Linked DNA regions of Homo sapiens. The protein of the gene in region 2 interacts with the protein of the main gene of each other region in a pairwise test. Each region holds a gene or a part of one and is shown on either strand. Other genes may lie near its edges. The genes, in order: CACNA1C and PCDHB5.

What was found.
Region 1: the proteins of PCDHB5 (region 2) and CACNA1C interact in binary tests that used the Homo sapiens proteins (3 or more experiments, as listed by UniProt).

What each region holds. Positions count from the first base shown.
Region 1 is NC_000012.12:2,059,462-2,063,278, reverse strand, and holds part of CACNA1C (voltage-dependent L-type calcium channel subunit alpha-1C), read right to left. Parts: intron 1-3,817. UniProt on the Homo sapiens protein: Pore-forming, alpha-1C subunit of the voltage-gated calcium channel that gives rise to L-type calcium currents. Mediates influx of calcium ions into the cytoplasm, and thereby triggers calcium release from the sarcoplasm.
Region 2 is NC_000005.10:141,133,873-141,138,211, reverse strand, and holds the start of PCDHB5 (protocadherin beta-5 precursor), read right to left. Parts: upstream 3,007-4,339; 5' UTR 2,778-3,006; coding exon 390-2,777; 3' UTR 1-389. UniProt on the Homo sapiens protein: Potential calcium-dependent cell-adhesion protein. May be involved in the establishment and maintenance of specific neuronal connections in the brain.

The DNA.
Region 1 (3,817 bases), on a different chromosome or scaffold from region 2:
TCAGGAGACTGAGGCAGGAGAATCGCTTGAACCAGGGAGTCGGAGGTTGCAGTGAGACGAGATCGTACCACTGCACTCCAGCCTGGTGACAGAGCGAGACTACACCTCAGGAAAAAAAAAAAAAAGGAATTATTATTGCTGTCAATAACACATGAAAATCCATAGAGACAAAAGTAAATTCATGGTTGCCAAGGGCTGGAGAGAGAGGGGAATGAAAAGTGACTACCAATGGGTAAAGGGTATTTTTTGCGGGTGATGAAAATATTGGGGAAGTAGGTAGACCACTGAATCATACACATCAAAAGGGTAAATTTTACGGTATGCGAATTATACCTCAACAAAGCTGCTATTTCAAAATAAATAAATAAATAATGCATGAAGTCTGGAGAGCTCAGCTTACAGGGATGGTCCCCGGGACTCACGGGAATCTCGTTTGAGAATGGAGAGTGTCTATTTTCCTGGAGGGAGTGACTGAGGAAATATTCCAAGAATGGGTGGTGAAGCAAGGCCATGCCACAAATGGGTCCCCCGGGAGACAAGGTGTACTGACCTAGGTGGTCTGTGAAGGCCTGTGAGGAGATGTGAAGAAGCAAGGAGGGCCCTGGCAGAAACCCTGGGAATAAGGGGAAAGAAAGCCAGAGGACGGGACCAGGAGGGGAGGCGGGGTACCACGACAACATGCAGCCATCAAGTAAGAACAAGGATTCCAGCTCTGAGCTTCCACAAGGCAAATCTAAGCCAGGTTCCAGAAGGCAAGGACAAGGTCATTTTCCCAGGATAGAGAGATAGTGGGTTTCTCTTTCTACTGTTCTCCATGGGGAGAAGTAACAGAAAGAGCAAATGTTTTGAAAGTCCGACAGACCTGAATTTAATTCCCAGCCCCAACACTGTCTGGGTGGCTGTGGCCACATTGCTTAAGACTTTGGTCCTCAGTTTCCTTATCTAAAAAATATAATTAAAACCCACGTGGTAGGATTACTGTAAGGATAAAACATATTAAGCACATGAAGCACCAAGAACATTGTCTAACACATGCTAGGCATTCAATAAATGGTGGCTATTACTCTTGCTCTATTTTAAAATTATAACAAGGTAGATGTTATACCTCAATACAGCTTTTTTTCTTTAGAGAAAAATTAAAACATATATGGCTCCACAGATCACAGGACCAGAGCTGGGGGTAGAACAAGGTGCAAACAAATGCGAAAGTGCGAAAGTTTCCCAGCATACTTTTTGATGATGGGATTATTTTTGCTTTGGGAAACTAAAACTAATCCTGTCACTTAGACTATAATGTTAAAGCTCTTTCCTATTTTGATCAGTGTCTTAGGGAGCTACACAGAACTGTCCCCTCTATCTCCAAACCTGCAACATTTTGGCTATGAAAAATAAATAAGTTTATTTTCCAAACCCAAAGTTTACTTTTGAAGCAAAGTTTTATTTTCCAGCCCGTCCTCCTGTACTGGGAAGTTGGGTTTAGGTTTGGGGAATTCACGTTCAAAAGTGAGGAGACATTGGTTGCCCAGGTGGTGTTCTTCCTGCCCTCAATGGCCCTATTTTCAGGCCATGAAAGGACTTCAGGCCAGCGTGGCTTTGGACTTGAGGCCGAAGCCAGGCAGCCATGTGTGGTGGCAGTGAGGGGACAGCAGCATGGCAGGTGGACAGCTGCCAGGCGTCGGATACCCTGCATCCCCATGTCCTCACCCTCAGCTTGGAAACAGCAGCAGTGCCAGCAGTGCACATGGCTCCACCGTCCTGGGAGCCTACTGGCCACAGGCTCCTAGACTCTCTGGAGGGCAAAATACCAGGCCCATCTCAACCAATGGTTCACTTCCTCCCTGATTATTCTGGTATCAGCCAGACCACCTCAGACTCTGGTTTCTCTTTGTTTTACATTTTCACCTTTAAAATATTGAATAATGTCAGCCCTCCCACAACACCTCCAAAGTTGTTTGAAATGCTGTGAATGTTACTTCATGGCGTTGCTTTTCCAAACTCTGGTGCTCTGCTCGCTGATGGGGAGAATAAGAGTAGCTGATGTTTGAACAGCGATATACACTCATTCTCCTATTTGGATCCTCACAGCTGCCCTGCGAAGTGAATTGGCTAAGGATTATTATCTCCACTTTACAGACAAAAAAAAAAAAAGGGATTTGATTCCTTCTGAACTCTCAGAGAAAGAGATGAAGTCAAAGAATGTGACCCAAGACCCAAGTCATTTCTCTAGCCTACAGCCTTATTTATTCTTTAGCTATTTACTTTGTTACTTTTGTTAATGTCTTTGAAAGGTTTTAGCCCAACGTAGATTATTTTGGAAGAAAGAAAGGAATATAAATGACTGTACATGACACAATGGTTATAAAGTAAATAGAGCTTAATTGAGTACTCAAGTCAACATTTCTGCCCACAGGCAATATGGAGAAGAACATTCATTCACTGTCTAGATTTTGGCTTGGTTCTCTAAAGGACAGGAGACAAGATTATTTTATTTTCCTTTTAGCTAGGTTCAAGTGGGCAACACCAAGTGTAGCCGAGTGTATTAAAAGAAACCCCTGTTGGCAAATTGGCAGCTTGAATATTTCATGAAATTATCACAACACTATGTTCTGAAATGATGGCTTCCTCCAGGGAACTCAAAAGCCACATCTCTAAGCATGAGCCTGGCTCATGCCTCCGTCTTCAAGCTAGACCGAGTCAGCCTCAGAGGCCTTCCAGTTTCTCAGAGATGACTTGAAAGAGTATGAAACAAGTCAGCCAATGAACACTTCAAGGAAGATGGGAATGTCAGAGGCAGGTCCTAGTGATTCTCTTCCATGGGCTGAGTCTACCACCACTGCTGGGAATGTCTCCTGGGAGTAGGCCGGGGGTCCTAGGAGACCAACCCTGACATGGGAGCAGAAAGACGCCCTTGGTCGCCCAGCTCAGGTGGAGTCTGTGGCAGCCTGTCTCACAGTCTCTACCCTGGGGCTGATCTGTGTGTCTATACCCCAGCTACTGGTAATGCCAGCTGGTCCATGAAGAATCCCAGCAGCTCACCAGGGAAGTCCCACAGCACAGCCCGGCTTCCCATCCCCATCCCACTCTCGCAAAGGGGCTGAAACAAGCCTAGATTGGGGCCGAGAGGAAGTGAGCAAATAAAAAAGGCTTAGAGGCAGATCTGTTTGCAGACAAAATCGTGATCTGAATTTTGCAGGAGTTTCTTGTGGACATGTATGAACTTCTACTCTGTAGCCTAAGAAAGTGTTTTTAAACCTTTCCAATGATAGATTTCCCCCACCCCACCCTTCCAACTCCATTCCTAAATCTAACATCGCAGAAATTATTTTAAGGCAGTACAAAGGTGGAGGCAGGGGGAGGAAGAATAGAGAGGTTGAAAGATCTACCAAGCAAAATTTAGCCAGAAGCACTAACAATGCTCTCTCAGGGGGCCAGCACCAAGTGTGGTACAGGCAGGAGGATGAAGAGACTGAAGACCTTGTATTTAGTTACATCCCTGCCTCCATGAACCTTTAGGGGCCTCTGTTTTCTCAACTGGAAATGAGGATTGTCTCTAAGGTTCCTTTACCCATAAAATGTCCTGATCCTAGAAAGTAAATTCCCAAAGAGACATTACATTTATTCTATGTTTGACAAACCCTTTAACGAACCAGAGCCTAGCCCCTTGCCCCCTATACACACAGGGTATAGCACAAGAAGCCCATTTTAAAGTGAAGGTGTTTTGCAGAGAACTGTTCTGTGGGGTTTTGGGGAGGGGAGGGGCTGAGAGGTTTGGGTTTCTTGCCAGTTAACCCCCGCTTTCCTCACCCTCTGCTTCAGC
Region 2 (4,339 bases):
TGTGAAACATTTTTAATTTTTGCATTTTAGCATCAAATATATAATACTTAAGAGTGTGATGAAATAGAATGGGCAGAATATATAGAAAATAAAATTAATACTTGATTTTATTAAGGTGGTTTATCACAACAAATACCAACAAGAAGAGAAAAAAATCTCAGGAAAATCAACAGCATGCATGGATTTGGAATGACACTATGTAAATAAATGCAATGAAATAAAATTGACTTTTCAACACTTGGACAGCATGAAGTTCAACAGACAAATCCATTAAAAAGGGAAATAAAAGCTCAATCTCAAGGTGAAATTTTTGTCCATGACACTCTCGAATTCTAGATCTGAAAAAGTTTGGGATAAATGGCAGAAAACAACGCGTCATCACGAGATCTCTAATTTAATCCAAAGCTATTCCGGAAGGCAGCAGTTTTCCCTATTTCTTCACCAGCGCCCTGGGGCAAAAGGTTAGGAATAATCGGCTTCAGGAACTTGAACTCGCCGGCCCCTGAGTCTCCGGTCAAACACACCTCGTAGTGGTAGCTCTGGGATAGGGTCCCGGTGCCGCTCACGTCCACCAGATGCCCTGGAAAGGGGCCCTCGGGCACCGAGCAGCGACCGACCGGGGCCGCCCTGCTCCTCCTGCACAGCCGCACTGCCACGAACAGGAGCACCGAAAAGAGGAAGAGCGACGACACCGAGGCCAATGCCACCACCAGGTAGACAGTGAGCGAGTCGGCCTGGGCCTGGGCCGGGGCCGCCTCCGGCAGCGGCAGGTAGGGCTGGGAGAAGCCGTCCACCAGGAGCACGTGCAGCGTGGCGGTGGCCGAGCGCGGAGGCTCGCCATTGTCCTTGACCAGCACCACCAGCCTGTGCTTGGCCGCGTCGCGCTCGCTCAGCAGCCTGGCGGTGCGCACCTCGCCATTGTGCGCCCACATGCTGAACAGCCCGGGCTCCGTGGCCTTGAGCAGCTGGTACGACAGCCAGGCGTTCTGGCCCGAGTCACCGTCCACCGCCACCACCTTGGTCACCAGGTAGCCCGGCTCGGCCGCCCGGGGCACCAGCTCGGTGCAAGGCGCCGAGCCGTTCTGCAGCGGATACAGCACGAAGGGCGAGTTGTCGTTGGCGTCCAGCACCAGCACGCGCACCAGCGCCTCGCTGCTCAGCGCCGGGGAGCCGCGGTCTGTGGCTCCCACGCGGAACTCGAACGCCTGCAGGGCCTCGTAGTCCAGCGACCTGAGGGCAAACAGGTGGCCGTTGTCCGCGTTGATGGAGACCAGGGAGGCGAGGCGCAGGTGTGGGTTCTGGGGCGGCAGCAGCGAGTAGGTGACCTGGGCGTTGGTGCCTGAGTCTCTGTCTGTGGCGCTGACACTGCCGATGTGCAGGGCGGGGCTGTTGTTCTCTCGGACGAACAGGGTGTAGGAGGTTTGGGTGAAGGCGGGGGCGTTGTCATTGACGTCGGAGACCAGGACCGTTATGTTGTGCTCGGTTTTCAGCCTGGGTGTCCCCATGTCGGTGACAGTGATGGTGATGTTGTACTCGGCTTGGCTCTCTCTGTCCAGTGTTCTCTGTGTCACTAGGGTGTAAAAGTTTTTTAATGTGGGCTTCAAAAGAAAGGGGAGATCATTCTGGATGGAGCAAATCATCCTACCGTTGTCCCCGGAGTCTGGATCAGAAACACTGAAAACGGCAACTACAGTTTCCGGGGCATTTTCTGGGGTAGGGCTGGAGAGCGTAGACATGGTGAGTTCAGGGGCGTTGTCATTCACATCCACCACTTCTATAGCCACAGTGCATTTTCCTGAAAGGCCCCCACCATCTGTGGCTACAATTTCCACGTTATAATATGGAGTTGCCTCGAAATCCAATGCCCTTTTCAGGCGAATTTCTGCTGTTTTCTCGTCTATTACAAATGGTTGAGTAACTTCATCGCCTTGGAATAGAGCATAGGCTACACTCCCATATGCTCCTGCATCTAAATCTCGAGCGGAGACAACGACAACTAAGGAGTTAAGGGGGCTGTTCTCGGGCACCTGTACCTCATAGAATGATTGTAAAAATTCGGGGGCGTTGTCATTATTATCCAAGACGACAATGCGAATTGTGGTGGTCCCGGACCTGGGCGGAGCCCCACCGTCCAGTGCAGTGAGTGTTAAGCTGAGCTCAGGCCGCTCCTCCCGGTCCAGCGCTTTGTCCAGCACCAGCTCTGGGTATTTTCTGCCATCTCCGCGATTATGCGTAGCAACATGAAAGTGTGAATTTGGGCTGATTGTGTAGTTCTGAACAGTGTTGCTACCTATGTCAAAGTCCTGGGCTATTTTTAAGGGAAACACAGTCCCTGGCTGGGTGCTCTCTGGGATTTTTAGGAGCATTTCCTTCTCTGGGAACTCTGGGGCATGGTCATTTATATCTGTGAGCTGCAGATCAGTTTGAAAAAACTGCACTGGATTTTCTAGTAAGAGCTGGAAATGCAATATACAGGGTTCTGTCGCCCCGCACATCACCTCCCGGTCTAGTTTTTCATATAGAAGCAAATTGCCGGTCTTTATATCAAGCTGCAAGAGCTCTTTGTTTCCTTTGTAATGCATTCGCGCGCCCCGAGTGGCCAGTTCCCCCACCCCAAGACCCAGGTCTTTTGCCAGGTTGGCCACAGAATAGCCACTTTCTGTTTCTTCTGGTATGGAATACCTAACTGCCTCAGAGCCAGCCTCCCACAAAAGCAACAATATAGCAAGAAACATAACTTGCCTTTTCTGTGGCGTTTTTGCTAGCGCAGTCTCCATTGTTCAGACCCGGTCCAGAAGGCGCAGTTTAACTCCGTACACAATCCACCCAGATGATTTGCATAAATAACCGCGAATCCGATCTTTCTTGACTGATTTCCACAAGAACGAAGCCCACCCTGAAGATCTAGCCACTAGATCTTACCTAAAATGCGTCCTTCTTTTAGAGTTTGGATTCCCCAGCTTAATGGCGTCTGAGTTATCCGCAGAGCCCACTATCCACACTCTTAGCCTGCAGCGCCACCAGGCGTCCTAATTTACTATTGCATATAGTATTTGCCATTTCATCCTAAATTCTAACTGACGTGTATCCATACCCTTTTGTCACATAAGCTCTCCCGATGGTATCTCCAGCTCTTAGTTGCTGAAAGTTCTAAATAAATGTTGTGGAGTTAATTTTCAGTGAGAAAATACTTTTGAGAAAAAAACTAAAATTATATATTAATCTCCATAAAAGTACCCTTGAGTACACAAATACACTTTGTTTGGTGTTTCTTATTTGATTATATTAAATAAGTGATCAGGAATATCTATAGAAATTTAAAGTTTAAGAAAAATTACTTTCACTTTGAAGTAAACACCAATAACACCCAGAAAATGGCACAAATCATAGGTGTATAACTCAATGAATTTTCGCAAAGTGAACACACTCCTGTAAGTAGAACCTAGATTAAAAATACTACCCAAACCCAAGTCCCCACCTGCTATTGTCTGGTTACCACCCTCTCCCCAAAAGATAAGCACTGTCCTGACTTCTGTTGTCATAGGTTTTTTTTGCTTTTTTTTTTTTTAACTTTATACAAATGGAGTTATAGATTGTTACTCTCGTGTGTCTGGCTTCTTCTCCTCAATATTATGTTCAGCAAATTGATCTGTGGCATCTTGTTCTTATTTGTTTTATTCTCATTGCTTTATATCATTCTGTTGTATGAATATACTATGATTTATTTATTCATTCTCCAGTTGATGAACATTGTTTTCCAGGTTTAAGCTCTTTGGGGTAGTACTGGTATAAACATCCTTGTACTAGTCTTTTGGTGACCACATATATGTGTTTATGTTGAATATATTCAAAGGAGTTGGATTGCTATGCATTAAGATGTGCACATATATTTTGCTTTAGCAGATAATGAGAAAGTTTTCTCAAGTAGTCGTACTAATACCAGCAAAGTATGAGAGTTCCAGTTGCTCCACATTCTTGTCAACATTTGATGCTATCTTTTCCATTTTAAACCACTCTGGTTAGTGTATGGTGATATGATATTGTAATTTTAGTTAGCATTTTCCCTGATGATTAAACAATTTGAGCACATTTTCATGTTTATCAGCCATTAGGATACAATCTTGTGAAGGGCTTATGCAAACCTTTTTACTTTTTTGGGGGGAGGCATTTGCCTGTTTGCTTATTGATCTGCAGAAGTTTCTCATATATTCTGGGCATAAGTCCTTTTTAAGATATATGTATTGCAAATATCTTTTCCCACTCTATGGTTTTTATTTCAAGTCTATTATGTGTCTTTGATGAATAAAATTTCTTACCTTTAGTCAGATTTGTCAATAAG